Regions from separate parts of the Homo sapiens genome. Here all the other regions are reported to be linked to region 4. Evidence: microRNA targets listed by miRTarBase, many of them from high-throughput screens and not tested one by one. Region 4 holds a microRNA gene; each other region holds the end of a gene's coding sequence.
What was found. Region 4 holds the annotated microRNA hsa-miR-2054 (CUGUAAUAUAAAUUUAAUUUAUU, at 1,454-1,476, shown strand). A microRNA usually pairs through its seed, bases 2 to 8, with sites in the 3' UTR of a target mRNA and lowers its output. Matches are read on the target gene's strand: a 7mer-m8 pairs with bases 2 to 8, a 7mer-A1 pairs with bases 2 to 7 and ends in A, and an 8mer does both.

Region 1 (3,077 bases), not on the chromosome of region 4:
TCTGTTAATTACCCACTGACAGGCATTATGACCTAACAGGAGGTTGGTAGCAGTAGATCCAAGCATGCATGTTGCCTGGCCTGTAGATTGGCCTTATCAGGTTTCTGGGTGCCTCTGCCTTAAGATCCTGAAGGCAAATTTTGTTTCAACAGTTTGGAAGTCATCTGTGGGTCCAGCTTGACTTTGGAGGAATAAGAAGATACTTCTAGAGTATGGGAATGATTCCAGATAATTTCTGGGATTTGAATCTACTTGAGTTTAAGGGCCTGGGACCTAATTTGGTTTAGTATAGAATTTGAAGAATTAATTTATAGGCAGCTGAATACCCAAAACTTGGGTGGTGGTCCTGTGGTTTGGCTGAGCTGTCCGGGCATAACCTGGTTCTCTGTTATGTTAAGGCTTTCTGGGAAGCCAGCCACTCTGCGCAGGAGTGAAACATGAAGTTGTTTTCTGAGGACCTGTTTTGGTGGGATTGTTTGGGCAGAGGACTGTGTTTATGCAGGGCAAATCCCAGAAAGATAAGAGGAAGCTAGAGAAACTTAATGTACCTGAATTCTTCATGGTGTATTTGCAAACTAACTTAACATAGATTCTTTTGACTATGGTAAGTTTGAATCTCTCCTTGCCAAACAACATTATAAGTTTAGTTTTCTTCTTCCTCTTGCAGCCGGTACAGAAAGGTGTAAGTGGTGGCTGAAAATTGAGGAAGCTTCATCTGACCAATGTGGGTGCTGGTTTCTTGTGAAATGTGTCCCTAAGCCTCCTTCTCCTTGCAGGCAGCCACCCACCCAGGTGTCTAAGATAGGACATGCTCCTTTCTTTCTCTAATCCCATCCTGAGGTTGCCGGCAAAGCCAATATGACCACTACTGAGAAATAGTAATGACTTCTACAAATGCAAGGGTCTTACCCTCCTCTTTCCCTTAAACACCCTCCCTTTTCCTTAGACCCCGTTTTTGCCATCCCCCAAATGTGTGGTATGGTGAAACTAATCCCCTGAATGTGAATTGCTATCCTTATTGCCCTATTAAAGAAGAGCCAGCTGGTATATTGTCAGGAAGCACTATTTAAAATGTGAACTGTTATAGAGTAAATAAATAAATACTCTACAGGAATACACTTGTGTGCCATTCTCATTCGTCTTAGTCATCAAGGATGGTTTGTTTCCCCATATGGAAAAGAGAACGGGCAAGTAGATGGGTGGCATTCTTTTTTTTTTTTTTTTAAGTTCTAGGGTACATGTGCACAACGTGCAGATTTGTTACATATGTATACATGTGCCATGTTGGTGTGCTGCACCCATTAACTCGTCATTTACGTTAGTATATCTCCTAATGCTATCCCTCCCCCCTCCCCCCACCCCATGACAGGCCCGGTGTGTGATGTTCCCCACCCTGTGTCCAAGTGTTTTTATTGTTCAATTCCCACCTGTGAGTGAGAATATGCAGTGTTTGGTTTTCTATCCTTGCGATAGTTTGCTCAGAATGATGGTTTCCAGCTTCATCCATGTCCCTACAAAGGGCATAAACTCATCCTTCTTTATGGCTGCATAGTATTCCATGGTGTATATGTGCCACATTTTCTTAATCCAGTCTATCACTGATGGACATTTGGGTTGGTTCCAAGTCTTTGCTATTATAAATAGTGCCGTAATAAACATATGTGTGCATGTGTCTTTATAGCAGCATGATTTGTAATCCTTTGGGTATCTACCCAGTAATGGGATGGCTGGGTCAAATGGTATTTCTAGGTCTAGATTCTTGAGGAATCAGATGGGTGGCATTCTTTATGAAGGAAATAATAGGGTACATTTCTCAGAAGGGATGAAAAGGTGGGATCCAGAGAGGAGCCTATGCCCCCTTGTTCACTGGGAAGTCCCTGGTGTGACTGTCCAGAAGGGAACCACAGTCCAATCTGAATAGCCTTGGTGGGCTATTTCTAGAAGTGACCCTGACCCTGTGTGCTGTTGGCGCCTTCTCATGTTAAACCACTCTCCTAAGGGCTCCTGGGACAATATTTAATAACACTTTTACTGGGTACCTACTGTGTGGATGCAGGACACTGTCCCAGGCAGTGTGGAGGACTTCTGTGCTATATGACAAAGCACTCAGGGGCGCTTCTGTCTTCCCATCTGTGACTTCCAGAACAATTCGCGCGTACCATGGAAAGTTGAGCCACAGTCACACTACCGTTAATTTGCTCACCTCCATTTCTCCAATTTCCAGACCAATAACTAGATGTATCAGATCCTTAAGGTCGGGAAGTGTATTTTACTCTTCTTTTTATCTCCATGGTTTAGCCCAGAACCTGGCACAGAAACTATCAGTAAAGAAGGGAATTCTGGATGTGTGAGATGTGGGGTGGGTGAAACAAGATGGAGCTGTAGAGGAAAAGAGAGCAGTGGCACCCAGGAATCCCTTAGGACTTAAAGATAACCCTTATTCATAGCCTTATTCGTAGCCTCTAAAAACCATGCTCAAGAGACGGATGTTGGCTTAAGCACATGTTGATAATCAGCAGACGTGTAAGGTAGGGCTCAAGCCTACTCCCCAAACCCGCTTAACTCCTAACACTGCTCTTCCTCTACAGATGACCTAACTGCTTCTTTCAGCTCCTGGCTGGCCCCTCTTTGAAATCCCTTGTTCCGCAGCTCGGAGTAGAAGTCGACTCCCTCAGAGACAGAGTGGATGGGCTGATTATGATACTGGTGGTAGCTGGTCAAAGGACCCACGGTGGGGGCTGCACTTGACAGCCGCCGAGGGAAACACTGATGGTGATGTGGTAGGCAGTTCGGGTTTTCCTTGAAGCTCTTACTATGCTTGCACTTGAACTCCAGCACCATCCTGGTGTACGTGTTGAAGGTGGTGACAGCCGACGCCATGCAGCAGGTGAAGGAGAGCCAGGCCATGCTAGGGACAAATGCACAAAAAGATTGGACAGTAAGAATAGGACTTTCTTGAGAGAAAAATGCCATGACCTCTTCCTACTAGTGGACTAGCTTATTGCCTTGTAGGGATTTAGGGACTTTCCACCATGTTTCAGGTAAAGAACTGTGGGAAGAGAACTTACTGGTTTCTA
Region 2 (3,084 bases), not on the chromosome of region 4:
ATATAGAAATTACTCAGTAAATTACTACTACAAAAGAGTATCATTGCCTACATCCTACATGTAAATGTTTGTTAAATGAATAAAGTAGTATTTAAGGAAATTCTCAACTAGTGGATTTTTTGTTTCCATAAATTTTTTAAAATTAAAATAATGTTTTCTGCTCCTGGCTCAAAATAATGTGTTGTTGTAATGCAGTTGGACAGTAAAAATACCAGAAATAAACATGCCTTTTTTTTTCCAGCTTGAAAATAAGGAACTTCGAGAATTATTGTCCATCAGCAGTGAGTCTCTTCAAGCCAGAAAGGAAAACTCAATGGACACTGCTTCCCAAGCCATCAAATAACTGAACTCTGAATGATGGCTGGAGATTGTCTATCAAGGAAGGAAGTTACTGTCTTCCCATTCAAGTACTGTCCATTAAGTGTCTTGCCTCAGATTTGATTTAATCTTAATTAAAGGTATCAGGTGGCAATTTAGAATTCCAGTCAATATTGGCTGTCCACAGTTCTCAGATGTGTTAATGTGAATACTACATGCTGAATTTCACCATTCCTTTCTCAAAGAGACTACTTTTAATTTTCATTTCTGGGACCTTGATTTATATAAACTATGTTTTCAGTTCTTTGTTATTTTTCACATCTCTGAAACTTTGAGCATTTTTTATAAGCCAGCAATTTATTTTACATAGCATTGTAAAATACACTTCTAGGAAATTTTAGGAAAGATTTAACTGTTTAAATCTATTTGGCATAAACCTTGATTTTTTTTTTCCATTTGACAAAAATAATACAATTCCACAGAACTAGATCAGCAGATTCTCTGATTTGTAATGTCATTCACCTGTGACATTTTAAGTCTCTCTGGTGCTAAGAATTGGCACTTTATAGCCTGGTGCCTTTACTTTTAATTTGAGAGAACCTACTGCTAGTCCCAGGAAACACACTTGGAAATAAGTCAGCTATTTTTTTTGCCCAGTGATGCTATAGTTGTCATATTGTCCAAAGTTCATATTGTTCAAAGCTGAGGAGCTTGTCCTGTGTATGTGAATGCACACATGTGCACTTAGTTCAAATACTAAAAGTAGCTTTTATTAAATATAATCAGCCAAAAACACACACAAAATAAAAAAAACAAATATAAGTAGTCAGTTTTTCAATGTTATCCTACTAGTTCTACATTCTATTTTAATTTTTATACAATTTCCATTTTATAGTTAAGAACCATCACTTACTTGGATTGGATGTCTTTCATTCCTAGCACTAATAGTTGGCTTTCTTTTTTTTTGTTTACATAGAAGCAGGGTTTTTTTTTATCTTTTTTCTTTTTTTTTGTTTAAGCTATATAAAAAGGTGAGGAAGCAGTTTTGTTACCTAATGAAAATTATTACACTCATAATGCTGTGTAGGCAACATTGAGATTCAAATGCCCAGTGGTCAACTGGGTTCACTCATCAACTCATTCCCGTCCCAGTTTACTCACATTTCAAATTTATAAATTTCTTCATGTTATACTATTCTATTTAGATTTGCCCAGAATTAGTTGAAATAATGCTAAACCTGTCAATATTTTCCAGTAACATTAAGCACCATACTGCATGGGAGAGACACAGTACTAAAAAGAGTTGTTAGTGCTTTATGTGAGTGATATTTCTTTCGTAATGCTATAAAGAACTACAGTTAAAATAACAAAATATTTTAAAGATGTCCTAAAAGCATCTGATCCCAGTAATAACTAATGGATGTCATCTAGAGCAGTGGGTGTTAATGAATAGGTATATGTCATTTAAGAATTTTTCAAATTTCTGTTTGATATCCTGCATAGAATTTGACAAAAAAAACACTTCCAAGTGTGAGCATTTTTTATTTCATTTCCCAAGAGTAAGTAAGTAACTATTAGCCCAGCCATCTGCCTCGAAGTATACCTTAAGTGACCCCATAAATCCATTCAAGAGGCAGGTACTCTATACCATTTGGCAGCCACGGCCAAACCTACCATGGCCAGATTTCAGTGAAAATGATGAAGTAATCAAATCAAGGTATAATATGGTGTCCCTTTATGTGCTTTATGTTCCTTTAGAGCTGTTTATAAAGTTCTTTATATCTCAAGTGTTAGGATAAATCGACATACTAACTTTTCCCCCTGCAAAATTAAAAGCCTGAGGTACAAGTCTAAGAAGCTTTTAGTGCTCTACATAATATAAATTCTGGCTGGTGTTAATGCTATGAAGATAATATGTAGTTAGAAAATTGAGTCGGGGAGGAATGCTCTTCATTTTAAGTGGATTTTAAAGTTTCTCCTTGAGTGGATGAAGAACTTGCCTGGTTTGCAAAAATCTTAGTTCAAAATTATATTTTCTAACAAAAACTGCATTTTGAGAAGATAAGCTAATTTTACTCAGTAGTAAGTCAAATGAGGAAGTGCAGAGGGTTTTTTTACATATATATAGCAACCTTGTCAAGTGGTCCTCACAAGAGTCATAAATACTTTGTAATTAGCACAGTATATTCAGCAGTGTATAACTCTACAAATAGTACCTTATATTAGTGTAGTATTATATCAATATCTTATGTATAATTCTTATATTAATACCTTATGCATAATTGGATTCAAACATTGAAGGTCTATTTTAGTGTTCTTCAAAATGTGCTTCCCTGACCTACTGAAATAGAAACTTGGTGATGAAGTTCAAGAATTTGTATTCTAATCATCTCAAACAATTCCTAAAGACACTGATTTTAAAATATCTAGTCTAGGCCCCATTGTGTAATAGTTAGCACTCTAAAAGATGAAAAAGAAAATAGTCTATGTGCCAACCACTTCATTAGTACTTATGAATTTAAAAATGAAAAAGTCTGGTACAGGAGACAAGTATATATATAAAATTATAATGCAGTGTGATAAATCCATTATAGTATGTATAAGATACAGAAGAGGGACTTTAAACTTGAGAATTCAATAGAGATAATAAATGGGTAGGAGGGAAATAGAAAACTTTGGTGCCACAAAAGCAAAGTATGTATGGTATTGCCAATAATAGCTACCATCTATTGAGTGCTTTACTACCTGTCAGGTACTGTATTATAT
Region 3 (3,084 bases), not on the chromosome of region 4:
TTGAGTAATCATCTGAAAGCCATTTGCTGAGCTGTCTGACTGCCCTGGGCTCGAGGTTTTCCTTTATTCATTTATCATGATACAGCTTTGGCCAACATACACACAGGAGAGAAATTGTTGACATGTGGAACCCAAGTACAGAAAATCTTTCATTTTCCTCCCTGTCTGTTCACCAAATAAGTTTTTGTTTATTTAAAGACTACAGAGGATTTGGCTGTTAAGAACCAAATGCCTTTGGAGTGGAATTACAACATAATTTATCATTTCCTCTGTTTATTAAAAAATCCTGCATCTTTGAGAAGCACATTTGCAGTGAGTGGGGGATTTCGGCCACTCATGAAAGACTGTTGCAAAGCCCCTGTCATGTGGCTTACCCCAAAAGAGGCTCCTTAATTGCTCTATCTATCCCTGCTCTTCCCCCAGCTGACTTCTGATCATGTGATGACCACTTAGGGCTGGTGGATGGGGTTAGAGGACAGGTAAGTGGGGCAGGAGACTGTGTTAGTTTAACTTTGACCCAATTTTGACCTTGAATCCTCACTGCATGTTTCACCAGTGTAAGTAAAGAGGGAAGTGCAACCCTTATTACCTCCAGCACAGGAGAGAATCTGGAGGAAGTCAAAGAGCAAAGAGAAGTTGGATGTTGCTTTGAAAGAACTCAGCCAGGCCTTGCCACCACCAAAGTGGGCTCCATTCTGAAAGCAGACACCTTGCAGAACTGGAATGAACTTCCTACTTTTCCACCCAATAGATTATTATAGACAGCAATTTAGTTCAGTGCACTATGTACCCCCCCAAAACAGGGGTCATATCTTTCCCATTTTTGTATTGCCAGTACATAGTTCAGCACCTGACAAACAATTGGTGCTCACTAAATGCTAATGAAGGCAGCAGGACACAGTGGTTCCTTCCAGATTGGTGAGGTGCTGAGAGAGTGTGAGCCCAGAGAAGGCATGGAAGCTCCACACCCTCTCCCTCTCCCTCAACCTTGCCCTGTGTACCTCCTTCATTGGGCTGTTCAGCTGTATCTTTTATAATAAACCAGTGAACGTGTTTCCCTGAGTTGTGTGAGCTGTCCTAGGAAATTAACTGAACCAAAGGAAATCAAGGACTCTAGTTTGTAGTTGGTCAGTCAGGAGTATGGGTGGCCCAGACTCATGACTGGCATCAAAAGTGTTGGCAGTCTTGGGAGATGGAGCCCTCAACCTGTGGGATCTGACACTATTTCCAGGTAATGTCAGAAATGAATTGAATTATAGGATACCCAGTTGGTGTCTGCTGGAGAATTGCTTGGTGTGTGGGGGAAACAAACTCACACACCTTGTCACAGAAGTGTTCCATGTTGAGTGTGAAAGTACAAAAGGAAAAAAAGTTTGTTTTTTTCCTTTTACATTAGCACATCAGGCCTCAATTTGAATGCCAGCTCTGCTACTTGCTAGGTGTGTAACCCTGCACAAGAAACTTCACCTCTATGTAAATGACGCTGACAATGAATCATGAAAACCTTCTACCACTGATCAGCTTTGCTTTGTTACTTTGGGCAAATTACCTAATACTGTCAAGACTTAGTTTTCCTATTTGTAAATGAAGATAATACACATCTCTTAAGTTTACTGTCAAGATTATAAATAATGCCTAGAACTATACCTAACTCATAATGGCTATATTAGGAATGAATGAATGAATAAAAAATAATTGGAGGGAAAAAAACCTAATAACCCAGTATCCGAAGATAAGCCACAATAAACTACTTGTCTGTCAACAATGGGCAGGCCCTGCAGGAAAGGTATGTCACTACCAAGTAAATGTTGAGAACAAGTACAAGAGTGGAAAATGATAGAAAGGGAGTGTTAAGACTAGAAAGAAAAGAAGTCAGCATTTGCTGGGTAGCTACTATGTGCAATTTATTCACGATACAACATATGACTGCCTACTATGCTCCAGGCATTACACAAAGTTCTGAGGATATACAGGCTAATTAAGTGCAACAAGAATACTTAGAATTCGTACAAAGCAGTAGACTGTGCTATGAGAGCCGGTAATGAGGGTCCTAGGTTAGAGGGGAAAAGAAGACTTCCCAGAGGACGTGATATCCAAGACAAGGCCTGATGATAAACAGGACTGGCCAGGTAAGGAGGGGAAGAGAGAGCCAGGCAGAGAAAACAGCATGTGTGAAGACGACTCACAGGCAAAACTACTGTTATGGGTGCCTCACATACAGATCCTCAGTGATCATCAATCCAGACCAACTCTATTCTTTCCTTTGTGGTTGTTATTCCTTCCAATTTATTTAGATTTTATTGTTTAGTGAAAATGGGCCTCTAGTAAAGTGTCCAGTCACAGGTGAAGGCCAATATCAGAGTTTTAAAATGGGAACAGAGCCTAATTATTTGAAAAGGAGACTCCTAAGATGAGGAGCAGGTGGTACTAAGCCTGCCAATGGCCTCAGTCCCTTGGCAACATCAAGTCAAAGCAAATGCCTGAGTACAGGCCTTTTGCCAGCAGCAAGTATTTTCTGAGAGCCACCCACCGGCCCAGAGCAGAAGCAGGAAGAGAATGAACATGTCTGAGTGTTCCCCTGGAAGGCTGGGCCTTACAAGGACAGGCTTCTGTCAGCATGGTGACAGTCTTCTGTGTAGATGGGGGAGGGAGAGAAGTCCCAATGTGCCACCCATGGGATCCAGCAGAAACTGGGCTCTGGAGTATTGCTGGCCCCAGTGGACTTTCATCCAAGGAGTTCTTTGGTCTTCACTGCCAGATGCCTGTCCAGTTCTGCCACTGTGTCATCGGCCATTTGGCTGATCTGCAAGAACACAAAATGAGACAGCCTGATTAATGGGGCTGGAAAAGGGTAGGGGGATGAATATTCCAGAAACATGAAAAGGTTATGTGAGAAATAATAATAGTGACAAAAGTTCACATTAAGTACCAGTCAGGCACTGTACTAAGAACTTTATATATACATTCTTTTTTTTTTTTTGAGACAAAGTCTCGCTCTGTCGCCCAGGCTGGAGTGCAGTGGTGCAATCTCGGCTCACTGCAAGCTCCGCCTCCTGTGTTCACGCCATTCTCCTGCCTCAGCCT
Region 4 (3,084 bases):
CTAGTTCTCTATTTTGGAGCTTCGTTCCTAGTCTTCATTGTGTTGAGTGACAAATTTGCAGGCTGTATGGATGACTTCATAGTTGGAGCAATGTCTTTTTGTGCTAACACTGCTTTGGTATTTAGTAAACAGTGAGATGCTCTTAAAATATTGCCAATGATTCTAAAGGAGTCCATCCTAGGATTAAAACATGGGTTTAATACAGACATTTCTTATTCTTACCTATTTATGTACAATTTTGGGGCAACTATACCATTTCCCCATTTCTAAAACTTTTCATTCATTTATTCAAAATTAAATACACTTATTTATATAATTTATCCATGTATTTATCAATGTGACTGAGTAAAAAAAAATCAGAATAGGAAGTGAACTGATGCTCATTAAACTCTTCTAAATGTAGTCATGTAAGTATTAGACCAGAGCTGTAAGCAGAGTAATAGTCTAACAAAAATACCTATTCTTACCTCAATCTTATGGAGAGTATTAGAATGATAATGTCAGTTTCTTATGACTTTAAGCCAGATTAAGGGACATAAATATATGACAGTATTTTTTCATAACCTACTGTAATATTTTCTAATTTTTTGCTGTATTTACTCAAAATTTTTCTGAGCTTCTTATGAACTTTATTTCAGGACTGGGGGAAAAGTTTTATAAATCGGTTTTAGAAAAATGCTTAAAGAATTGACCACATTATAATACAGATTTTTGCTATATGTTCTTGCACAAACTATTCCTGTAGGGAAATGTTACTTCTCATCACACTGACATCAAGTTTGGCCATGTGAATTTCTTTAGCTAGTTAAATGTGTATGGAAGTAATATGTGACACTTCTGAGCAAATATTTTCAGAGCATCCTCTAGATCCTCCGTCATTACTTTCTTTCTGCCATCAGAACCACTTTAGTAGAGATTTCCCCCTTCCAATGGGGTATTGGAATGATGAGGATGTGGAGCAGAGCTGCAATGGGCATGAACATGAGTGACAAAGAAACCTTCCTTGTTTAAGCCATTGAGATCTTGGAATGATTTGCTACTATAGCATGCCGTTGTAACCTGCCTGATACAAATAAGCTAATAAAACAAAGATTTAATTGCTCTGAATTTCAAGTTTAATACTATAAGATGGTGTTAGAACTATACCAAAATGGAGATGCTTTGTGGTATCAAAATGTTAGAATAATCCTTTATACTCTTTTACTACTTCAGATTATTTCACTAAAATATCTTGGTGTATAAATTATATAAATATATTGAGATGGAAACTAATAATTCTACTTTGATCTCCCAATAGATGAGAGCAAGTGAGAATTAATTTATTTGCATTTTTCAGTGGTACAATTAGCCATCTGTTGATTGGCTTATTAATACTCCCATTGAATCCATGAGTTTTTGCTAGGTTTCCTTTGGCAACAATTAAGAAGCACCAGTGTGTAGATTCTCCTTCTTCCTGTAATATAAATTTAATTTATTCTCTATCATTAAAAAATGTATTACAGAGGAGCATATTAAAATATTCAACAGAGGGTAATTAGCTGTCTATGTTTTATATGCAGTAATAATGCTTGAGACTGCTTCTAAATTTAGTAAGTAAACTCAGGCTAGAGCAACACAAACTGGTTGTCTGAAGATAACAATTAATTCAGACAAACCAAGTGACTGATGGTCCCTTGTAGACTTGAGTTTTCTCCTGTTTCTCATATTGCTCAGTTTTATAATCAATAACAGAAGCAAAATTACAGAATTTTCTTTTGGTGAGATATAAATTTCCCCAGTGACTCTCACTGAAAGGCAGAGCAATCAGCAATGCACCAGATAATCTGATAGCAAGTATAAATTTGCTATATTTACATAAACATATTTATAAAACATATATTTATATAAACATATTTATATAGACATATATTTATATAAATATCAATAAATAAAATAAAATTTAAGTTAGCTAGTTTATTGTGTTATTTAAAAAGTCAAGGACATGAAGTTATCAAAACTAAAAGACTCAGAGCAAAACTTCTCCAAAAGAGTCACTTCATGATTAATCGGTCTCTAACCAGATTTTTTTAAAATTGTACTTCTTGGGGTAAAAGACAATTTAATCCTGATATCAGCTGATCTTTTGATTCTCCTACTTTAATGGCTAATTAATCACCTATTTTATTTCCAAGGCACAGATATAATTTGAGTCTGTTGAAATTTTACAGGTTGGGAGCAATCTAGATAGTTTAAAAATGCATACGTATACATTTGGTATAATCTTTGCAGGCTTTGAATTCTAGTGTCTTCAACTAATCTGGACTTCTTGTACGGAAATGTAATCTTTTCTGCCTCTAAACAATTGACAAAGGGCAAGAGTTTCTAAGGAGGAAGAAAAGAAAGTTGAAGAAAACCTGACATTTTGCACAACACTGGTTGAGAATAGGCAAAAAAAGAAAAAAAAAAAAAACATTTAGAACAGAACTGAAAACCCATTAAGTGTTCTGGGTCCTAGGGGATACCCATTGCTAGCCTGCTCAGCAGAAGTTTTTCCATTACAATTTTTTGTAGATAAGTACTTTAATAGTAAAATAGGTCGTTGTTTTCCTGCGACTCTCATTAAGCTATTCAAAGAAAACACTTATTCATTTTCCTTTATCATTACCTTCCTTAGTTAGAAAAGTCTGGATTTCAGTTTTTTTTGGTTGCTTGTTTATTTTTGATTTATATTAATTTTCCCTTATGAAGAAATCAATATAAGTCCCCCGTGATTTCTTGAAAGAATATATCTAAAGACATAGCATTTTGTTTTTAGGTGGGAAGTTTCAGTAAAATTGTTTTGTTTGCAAAACTACATCAAGTAAAAAGAGGTTCTGGAATTTTACATTTCATAGCAGTTTTCCTAAATAATCTAGAGAAAATGATTCCTAACTTTTACTTCATTAATAAGAAATAGTCTCACTTTAAGAAATAAAAAGATTTTAAAGCTAGACAAAAACAGATATTTTTGTAAAAATTCAAGTCAATATAAAAGCAATCCTTTCAAGAAATGAAATATTTTTCATACATTATTGTGAAAGAAAAAAATTCCTACACATTTAAACC
Region 5 (3,084 bases), not on the chromosome of region 4:
AAGAGGATTCTTCCGGGAATCAGGCTGTTTCAATCTAAAACATCCAAGATAAGTGGAAACACTGGGGAGGAAGGTGATGAACAGACGGAGGTGAGCCAGAGACACCTCCTGGGCAAGTCGGCCAGGAGGCGGGAGGCGTGGGTCAGAGACACTGCAGGAACTGGGTGAGGACAAGGAGGTGCGAGGAAAGGGGTTGGGGGATGGTCCCACAGGCAGCCACACCTGAGGCGTGGGAGGCAGGTAGGAGCTGGGGGAGGGCGGGGAGAAGAGGGGTTTCTGTGTGTAGATCTGAGTCCTCCCTCACATCCCAGCCGTGCCACAAGCCGCATCGGCATGAGGCCGGCTCTCCCTTCTTCACTGGTCTCAAAAGCCACCCAGGCCCAAGTCCCGGCCAGACAGCCGAGCCTGCCTAGCAACGCTGACCGGCCGCCCAGGATGGCCCAGACACCTTCTGTCTCCTGAATGCAGCCTACAGGGGTTCAAACAGACTGCTTGCATTAAGGTCAGACAAGGCTCTTTTACTTCCAGAGACAGCGGCCTGGAGCCTCGGGAAGAATGTAGGCCCAGGAATCACCCAGCCCCTCAGGACAACCTCTCTGAGCAACAGACATCCTCCCTGTTGAATGAGAGTGACATCTCTGCCCTGCCACCTACTTTACATGGATGCCACGAAGTGGGAGAGCCTGAGCAGTAGACAGGGAAGAGGCGAGCGGCCCCACTGCAGGAGGTAGACAGGCTACAGATACTTATGCAGCAGCCACACTGAGGCTAGTACTGGAGGAGGCTGAGAACCAGTAATGAGTTCTTAATGGTTTGATAATTTGGGTTTTTAAATATTAAATATTAAATATCAGGGGTTTCGGAAGGAATGATGAATTCCGTCTCATGCTGTAACTGATGAAGGCAACCAATGAGCAATCCTTCCTTCCCATAGCCGAGAAAGGGAAAGGGGACAGGCCAATCCCTCTGAAGCAGTAAGTCAGAACACGAAGACTTACAGAACTCAAACATCAAAGGTCAAGTAGCTTCTAGCCAGGAAAAGTGGTGGCCCCCTCAGCCTAGCCAGCACCAACCAGCATGGGTGGAGACTCAGCCTGGCAGTAAGGGCATTTCCTGGGTTTCCTCTGAAGCAGAGGAGAAATAGTGGGTCAGCCAGGCTGCTGGACTGAACCATGAGCCAGAAGGCCAGAATCACTGCAAGACAGCTCCAGCCCGCACACCTCAGTTGTGCTTTTGAAAACAGGTACAAAGCTGAGGCATGGGAGCTGTGACTGAAGTCGCCCTCCTGGCTGGCCTCGTCTTCTACCTCTGCTTCCACAGCTGGGTGACTTGGCCATAGGCCCAAACAATGGACAACCAGTTCCACATTAGGAGGCATCACGGACGCATCTGAGAGGAAACATGATTGAAGGACAAGCTTGGCCTCATGGAGGGCTCTGGATTCATCCCTTGAAGAACGCAGTGATCAAACAAAACCAAGAAGCAGGCCTGGAGGGAGCACTCTGGGATGCCCCCAAGTCCCCTCACCATTTACAAACCAGCACTGAGTTCTCAGCCTCCGCTCCTCAGGACTAGGAGACAAGATCCGGACAGGCAGGACAGGCAGCAAGCCGACTGTGAGCAGCCTGGGGGCGCAGGTGTAAAATACAAAGCCCTTTGAAGGTCCAGACAATAAGAGTAAAGATGTTAAGATTGCCCAGGAAAAGAACTTCACTGACACTGAATTTGGGCAACACCTAGAACAGACAATATTAAGATATCAATTCTGAGAAAGACTCACAGGAAAGGCTGTTTAGGAGGACACTAGAGACAAACACAGGGAAAATAAATACAGGGGCTCTGGGATCCCCCCACAGAAGCTACTAATGCTATTTATTGGCTTGGGTCACTTTTGAGAATAGAAAACCATTTTTTGGCAAAGCTGTACAAACTCCACATCAGGGCGTCTCCTGCAGTTGGGGACACAAGATGGCCACAGTGACCGGGCTCTTCATTAAACTTCCTCATAACCCGCTACGGTGTTCAGAAGCTAAGACGTGACTTCCAGAGCCAGGCCAGGCATGTGGAGGCCCCTGACTGTGGGCGTGTCAAGCCCTGGCTGGGGAGCCTGCTGCCTGCCCGGCCACTCCTCAGCTGTGGCTGTGGCTGTGGGCATGGCCGGACGGCGTGCACACTGGGCCGTCCCCTTTTGCGCAGGGTGGAAGGGGGAAGGAGGGTGGGACTCCATGGGCTCCACGATGTCTTCTAGCCCTGGTATTCTGTGAGACTAACTTCGCCCTGGTCATTCACCATGGCTAGGCACCAAGTGCCATCTAGTGGCACCGCGGGTCCACTTTCACAACACTCCAACCAAAGACTGCAGAACAAACCAACTCTTACCCACTTTAACTCCGGGGGTGAGGGCAGAGGAGGCTGGAAGGGTGAGCACACTTCATGGTAGTGATGGGACATACTCATCTCAAGAAAATATACTTTAAGACGTCTTGCTTTCCTTAAGAAAGCAACACTTTTTTTTTTATTTATTTATAAAGGCTAACCATATCCATTTGTCAATATTTTCGGCTTTAAGGAAAATAGTTTAAAAAACATAAAAAGGTAAATACACTCAAGAGTAACTGCTATTAAACAGTTCTGAACAGGCAGAAAATGTAGACTTTCCTTTAACAGAAAATGTTAAATCTGTAATAGCAGCATAATTTATATATAGAAAAAAGCTGGTTTTGAAAACCCAGATTTATACCCAAAACATTTTTTTTCTGTACAACTGCGTTTACACTGGGAAATAAGTTTCTTCACATTATGTTCATTCCCATCAGGTACAGGTGTGAGCTTGAGTTTGATCAGCCAGCCCTGAGCGCAAGCTCAGCGCTCAGCACAATCTTCAATCCAACACCATGGCAGAAAGCGCATTTAGATCTTTCATGTATGGGTGGGCCACCAAGATCTGGTCTATTTTCAGTCTTTGCTCTGAGTCAGGGAAGATCTTCAGAAGGGCTTCCCTCAGCTCGTTGGTTTCTGCAGAAGATCTCTGAGCTGGCATGGGCAGGTTCTGCTGGAGACTGGGGAGGGCTGGCAGCAGTGGGA
Region 6 (3,083 bases), not on the chromosome of region 4:
CCTCATAAAGATAAAATGCAGATGAATCAGTTTAAATCAGGCCTTCATTAAATTTTAGAATTAGCTTTTGGAATCCCAACTATTGAAGTGTGCAGTGTCTGATTCCTGAGCGTTGCGACAAAGCCATGAGCAGATAACGATAAAGTGCATCTTTGCCAGAAATAACATGGGCTGCCTTTGGTTTGTGCTAATAAACTATAAGACAACTTAAACTCTAATTTTAATATCAGAAATCCACCTCATTATAAATAATCTCAAACTCCCTATGTTATCAGCATTTTCATGTGTTTCTTTGGTGAGCCTGAAATATAATTTTCTATTTATGCTTCCAACGTAAATCTCCAATTTCTGGTTGGCCACTCTGGCACTAAGCCTAAGCTCTAATTTATTTCCATCTTTCCTTATTTCTTACATCAAAAGAGACTGTTGGTTTGAATAACAAACATTCAATAGACTTAGACGTGGGGTGGCAGGCAGCACAGGCATTACCTGTTTACCTTTTATTGCCTTCTTCGAATTGGCTTTTCTGGGAACAAAACCAATAAGACATGCTGTTCCTTCATCTAGTTTTTACCCAGGTTATTTATCAGGAGACATTCCTCCCCCCTTCCCTGTTTCAGCAAGGAGTGGCAGCAGGGTGAAGAATTCAGACTGGAACTAGGTTTCTGACCTTACACTATCATAGGTTATTGTTCTACCAAGTCATGTAGAATTTCATTGTCCTTAAGACTCTGGTTCGGGCTGATAATTGTTTTTGATTCCAGGAGATGCTGCTGCTAATACACTTGTAATCTGTAGGACAACAGTGTGCTGGGAACGAAATGCACACTGTCTTAGCCTCTTTGAAACTTTGCAAAGGTTCTTCCCCACCTGCCTCCCCTTGCTGTCTTGCACAGTAATTGGCCTAATAAAAGGCAGAAACAAGAATTTATTACACCTTGGGCAGCACTTAAAACAAACTTTATTCTCAGGAACAGCAGTTATGTCTACTTGCTGCTTTATATTTTGATATTTCCTCTAAATACTTAAGTCTGAATATATTCAAAGTCAAATTGCAAATCACTCAATTTCCCTGCTCCCTTCCTGGTTCCCCAGGTTGCGTCTTGTGATACTCCATGTAAACACTGTATTTGGAAAGATACATAGATCAGCATCCCTAGAGTCACATGATCACCATCAATCTGTGAAAATAGCATGACTTAAAAATAAAAGTCTCTTAGTACTCTGCCAACAGGCTTTGGCATAATCTTGGCAATCACTTAGATTTTTTTTTTTTTTTTTTTTTTTTTTTGCTGTTGTAATTTTTCCCAAGTGGAAATAGTCTCATATTTTGCAGAAGTTGTCCAAGCTAGTGAACATCAATCCATCTTCCTGGGAACTAAATTCGTCAGCTGAATGTACTCAGTCCACACAGAAATCAGTAAAGTGAGTGTGAAACTGCTTGGTGGCTGTTCCTTTCATCTTAAGAAATTGCAATACAAATTCCTGAAATCGTTTATGCAGGAGTTTTTATTCTTTAAATCTTCCAGTGTTAAAGCAACAAGAAAACATTTAGAATGTCCTTTGGTGGAATCTTATTACACTTGTTATATATGTAAACTGATATTCTTTGATGCCAGCACGTTCGTTGCCCTTACAGAGAAATCTCTGCACAGTGAAACAAAACAGAACGAAAGAGGACAAAATAAAATGTCAGTCTTTGCTGATTCGAATTAGATACATTAACAGATTGTCTGGTAACACAAATTGGCAATAATACAAAAAATCTACATATTACAGTAGTTCAAGAAAAATAACTTCATTTGAATACAAAAGGATAGATACACTTTCTTTTTTCCTATAGCCACTCTTGTATAGTGGGTGTGTGCTCGCACTGGACTCAGTGCTGCTAAGATATACAGGGGTATGACTGGCTTGCGCTTTTAGAGGGGGCTGTTACACATGTGCATCACTAACATCAGACAAAGAAATCTTTCAACCAACAAGGGTTACAGAGCAACGTTCACTAAAGCACAGGTTGGAAGGGATTCAGGGACGGAAGCAGGCCAATATGGCAGCTTGTAACAGATTTCCTTATGCCCACAATGCACCTGACAGCAAAGAATGCTATTTGGTTGGTCCACACACTGGGCGGAGTCGTACTAGGGCGCACCACGCTAGAGTAGCCAATGTTTTTAGGTCGGTTGATTTGTTTGTTTTTTGTCTTTCCTGTTTGGGGGGCTGTCGCAGCCTTTCCAATCCACAATATGCTCTGCAGCTGGCAATGTGATTTGCAGTGATAATATCAACAGCTGCCAACTCCTCTGGAGTCAGAAATTAACAGTCTTGACTCGGATGTGCTGTCCACGGGTGATAAATATGGCTTAGTTCAGTTAGGCCTTCTTAGTTTGTACACTGTCTGAGTGGGGGTGTCTGTATGTGTGTGTTTCCTATGTTAGTAGCAAATGTTTGGGTTGTGTCTGCTTCCCCACGGCACAGGCCCGTCCGGTGTGGCTGGAGGTGACACCTAGAACACCAGGGGGCTGGCGGTTCCCAGCAGCGTGGTCAGCAGCAGCAGCGCTGGGGAGCCGTGCGGGGGCGCGCCCTGGCCAGAGTCGGAGCCGCAGCTGCCAGCCTCCTCGCACCGCAGCTTCTCGCAGAGGATGCCCGTGTATGCGGCCGGGCACAGGCAGCGCACGTTGTTGTGGCACGTCCCTCCGTTCTGGCAGTGCAGGAGCTCGTTGTCGCAGACATTCGCTGCAGAATGAGGGGGAAGGTAGGGGTGGGTGGGCGCGGGGAGGAGAAGCAGAATCAATTGAAGTTCATCTGGTACATCATGTTTTCAGCCTAAAAAAAAAATCTCTATCGATCTTTGTGCTCCCCCCTCCCCTCCACAAACGAAGCCCGTGACTCCAATTTCCAAACAAATGTAGTTTTCTGCCTTTGTTTTTATCATATTAGTCCTTTTCATATAGATTTTTGCTGCAATCTTGGATGTTATCATTGTCCATTTCAGGCTATAGAATACAAAGTAATGCAATAGTCCTAGTTTGGCAGTATCTTTTCTTCATGGAACTGGGACCTGTTGTGATCTTTTGGGTTTT
Region 7 (3,084 bases), not on the chromosome of region 4:
TGTTTACTCTTCATTTATTTGATTATATACCACATCTATGACTCATCAGAGCAAACGGTGCCTGAGGGTGAGGGAGGAAGGAAGGATATGTGACCTTTGCCCTCTGGTCCCTCTCTTCTTCTAGGAACACCTGTCCATTGAAGATTTCACTCAGGCCTTTGGGATGACTCCAGCTGCCTTCTCTGCTCTGCCTCGATGGAAGCAACAAAACCTCAAGAAAGAAAAAGGACTATTTTGAGAAGAGTAGCTGTGGTTGTAAAGCAGTACCCTACCCTGATTGTAGGGTCTCATTTTCTCACCGATATTAGTCCTACACCAATTGAAGTGAAATTTTGCAGATGTGCCTATGAGCACAAACTTCTGTGGCAAATGCCAGTTTTGTTTAATAATGTACCTATTCCTTCAGAAAGATGATACCCCAAAAGGAGCCTATGGTCCTCATTTCAACTTCTAAGGTCGCTAGATTGTTTCTATCCTGAGGTATTGCATCAATTTTAATACTCCTATAGTTTTCTCTTCTTAGAAGAGCACAAACACTCCATGGAACATTAGAGTTCTGAGGCACTACCCTAGCTTGTCCTCTATCATGACTCATTTTTATCTATGGCAGGTAGGCTGAAGCACTTTGCAGGTTTACATCTTCCCCAGAGTAACAGCTTTTCCTTTTCACATATACTTTCCTTACTGCCTTACTCAGTGGGTAAGTTAAAGGGCTGAAGGAGAGTTGAATGGTCCACAAGACTACCCTCTTAAGAGGTTTCACAAATTCCAAACAGTACCAGTGAGAGCAGCACTTCCACTGGGGCTAGGCTTGAGACCTAAAGGCAAGTATGAAATGCATATGCTACTTCACTCCCTCTCCCAACCCTTAATAATGAGGCAAAGCAAGAGCCTAGTGAAGGCCAATGCTAGGTTTACAAACTTACCCAGAAGCCTCTGCAAAGCTTCACAGGCTCCTCAGATGAAAATAACAGGAATCAATGGGGACTACGGCCAGACACTGGTTTGCCATTCTGTTCCTTTTAAGAAGTAACAGTGCTGCAAGGAAGTCCATGTCAGAAAGCCAACAGAAGGTGATTTCCACAACTTTGAACAGGTTGTTACAAGTATCAGCAAGAATGTGTCCTTTTCAGAAATAACAGTCAAATCAAAGAAGGTTAATAAAGGCTTTAATTTCATACACACAAAAAAACTCTATGCATAATTTAAAAAGGAAACAAAAACAAAGAAAAACCGTAAAGGATACAGAGGAACAGTTCTGCTAAAACACAGATAAAAGTGCCGCTCCATACAAAACATAAAGAATCAGAATCAAAAGTCACTCTGAACATAAAGAAAAAAAATCATCTCACAAATAATGTGGCCACAGCTGCCAGAAAACCTGGTAGTGGCTCAATTAGGCAAAGTGTAGGAATCTCATTTTTGTTTTTCTCTCCTTAAGTTTAAAGAAACAACAATGACAATAGGCCAGAGAAGTTAGGGAGGGAAAGAAAAGCTCAAAGGGAGGGAAACCTGGGGACAAGAGGTGTGCACACCCACATGTGGTCTCACTCTTCACACAGGCCCACTATTTTTGAAGTAGACCAGTTTAGTTGACTGTTCTTCTTTGTTCTGGCATCTGACTGGACCAACCTGGAACCTGGTCCAGACCCTCACCCACTCTATTCTTATGCCAATGGACATACCTATACTTTGAACCTCTGTACTTTTAAGAAAAGTCCAATGTTACAAAATCAAATGCTTATATTCAGACTGGCACACTTTTTAAATAAAAACTCCATACACCTCAGACATATAGCACACATGGAGACAACTTACTAATTGTGTGTAAGTATGATACAATGAATGAGACTGCCTGAAGTCTAGTAATCAAAGCATGCCATAAGGTGAATGATTGTGGTTAAACACAGCAAAATAATTGTCACAAAACTTTCAAGGCCTAACAAATTAGAATTTTCCAATAAAAAATATATATTTTTTCAGATGTTAATAAGACATATCAGTAGAGACAAAATTAGGATTTTGAAGTAATGCAATAAAAAGATGTTGGAGGGCAGAAGTCTATTTAGTTTTTGTATACACTTGCAAGAGTGCATTACTCAGTATAAAGCAAAATGGGGAGGAAAAAGACATCCATCCATTTTATTGGAACACTTTTATGTGACTTGAATCTGGTGTTAGGTTGTTGATTTTTCTAAAAATCTCCTATATATACAAAATCCATATGTACTTGGAGATCCAGCTGTTGCCCCCTGTTTAAAACAAAAGACCACCTCGGGGGGTCAATTAAATTAAAAAGGCCCTCCAACCACCCTAAATGGGATAACTAAGAGTATCTACTGCAGTCATTTCAGAGGACAGAGAAGGAAAATATTTTAATTTGCTTTAATATAACCTCTTTTCAGTAGATCACAAATGAGTTTACAAACTACTTTTTTTTCTCTTTAATTTAGGTGTTTGCAGATAATTTTCATTATATCCGTAGCTGTATGTGTGTATAGTTACATAATGGTAACTACACACGATACAGAAGAATCAGTAAATTCATGGATTATTTTGCTGAGGTTTTAAATTTTAAAGCCTCTGTTTCAGAATTTTATACTTGATCAAGGAGAAAAATAAATGTGTAGTCTAACATTTGCTTTCTGGAGTTAATTAACTGATCTGTAAGAACCACTGCATATGTCTTAAAATGTAAACATATTTACATTTGTTGTATTTGTTATTGAGCCTTTAAGGTTAGGCCCAGAATGAACAGACCATAGCAAGTAAACAAATAATTTTTAGAATCAAAGTATTAATAGAAGACCAGTTCATGGATTTGCTTATTCTATCCTGCTGAGACAAAACTCATGAGTGTGCACACACATGTGAATATATCCCTACGAAACAGTCTATCTTCTCATAGGCTTAAATTATAGTCATGGCTATTAAAGAAATTAACAGCATCCAGCCACATGCAACTTTCCAACCTTCAGTACTATTAGGTGATTAAAATCAACAAATATGAAGTTTAGTTCATTTTTCCCTTAAAATTCCAACAAAGATCAAAAGGTTGTATCTAGAACTAATTGCCATCAAGTT

Region 1: miRTarBase lists GSG1 as a target of hsa-miR-2054. Seed matches in the 3' UTR shown: 7mer-A1 at 1,691-1,697.
Region 2: miRTarBase lists SIKE1 as a target of hsa-miR-2054. Seed matches in the 3' UTR shown: 7mer-m8 at 1,382-1,388.
Region 3: miRTarBase lists MRRF as a target of hsa-miR-2054. The part of its 3' UTR that is shown has no 7-base or 8-base seed match.
Region 5: the mRNA of N4BP1 is a reported target of hsa-miR-2054. Seed matches in the 3' UTR shown: 7mer-m8 at 2,681-2,687.
Region 6: the mRNA of NTNG1 is a reported target of hsa-miR-2054. Seed matches in the 3' UTR shown: 7mer-A1 at 1,296-1,302 and 7mer-A1 at 786-792.
Region 7: the mRNA of VIL1 is a reported target of hsa-miR-2054. The part of its 3' UTR that is shown has no 7-base or 8-base seed match.

What each region holds. Positions count from the first base shown.
Region 1 is chr12:13,082,336-13,085,412 of GRCh38, forward strand. GSG1 (germ cell associated 1) reads right to left here. Exons shown (of 7, transcript NM_001080555.4): 7 at 1,197-2,908. The coding sequence ends at 2,566. FAM234B (family with sequence similarity 234 member B) reads left to right here. Exons shown (of 13, transcript NM_020853.2): 13 at 1-1,114. Among named protein-coding and RNA genes, the nearest start is that of GSG1, 20 kb to the right of the region's middle. RefSeq lists an enhancer at 2,269-3,077.
Region 2 is chr1:114,771,530-114,774,613 of GRCh38, reverse strand. It overlaps SIKE1 (suppressor of IKBKE 1), which reads left to right. Exons shown (of 5, transcript NM_025073.3): 5 at 242-3,084. The coding sequence ends at 343. Among named protein-coding and RNA genes, the nearest start is that of SIKE1, 7.6 kb to the left of the region's middle.
Region 3 is chr9:122,322,259-122,325,342 of GRCh38, reverse strand. It overlaps MRRF (mitochondrial ribosome recycling factor), which reads right to left. Exons shown (of 7, transcript NM_138777.5): 7 at 1-2,803. The coding sequence ends at 2,726. Among named protein-coding and RNA genes, the nearest start is that of PTGS1, 47 kb to the left of the region's middle.
Region 4 is chr4:125,505,806-125,508,889 of GRCh38, forward strand. MIR2054 (microRNA 2054) reads left to right here and starts at 1,454; the gene lies at 1,454-1,502.
Region 5 is chr16:48,540,023-48,543,106 of GRCh38, forward strand. N4BP1 (NEDD4 binding protein 1) reads right to left here. Exons shown (of 7, transcript NM_153029.4): 7 at 1-3,084. The coding sequence ends at 2,882. Among named protein-coding and RNA genes, the nearest start is that of N4BP1, 69 kb to the right of the region's middle. RefSeq lists enhancers at 1,599-2,099, 2,100-2,600.
Region 6 is chr1:107,480,264-107,483,346 of GRCh38, reverse strand. NTNG1 (netrin G1) reads right to left here. Exons shown (of 8, transcript NM_001113226.3): 8 at 1-2,736. The coding sequence ends at 2,507. Among named protein-coding and RNA genes, the nearest start is that of NTNG1, 340 kb to the right of the region's middle.
Region 7 is chr2:218,449,099-218,452,182 of GRCh38, forward strand. VIL1 (villin 1) reads left to right here. Exons shown (of 20, transcript NM_007127.3): 20 at 125-3,084. The coding sequence ends at 238. It overlaps USP37 (ubiquitin specific peptidase 37), which reads right to left. Exons shown (of 26, transcript NM_020935.3): 26 at 1,153-3,084. Among named protein-coding and RNA genes, the nearest start is that of VIL1, 32 kb to the left of the region's middle.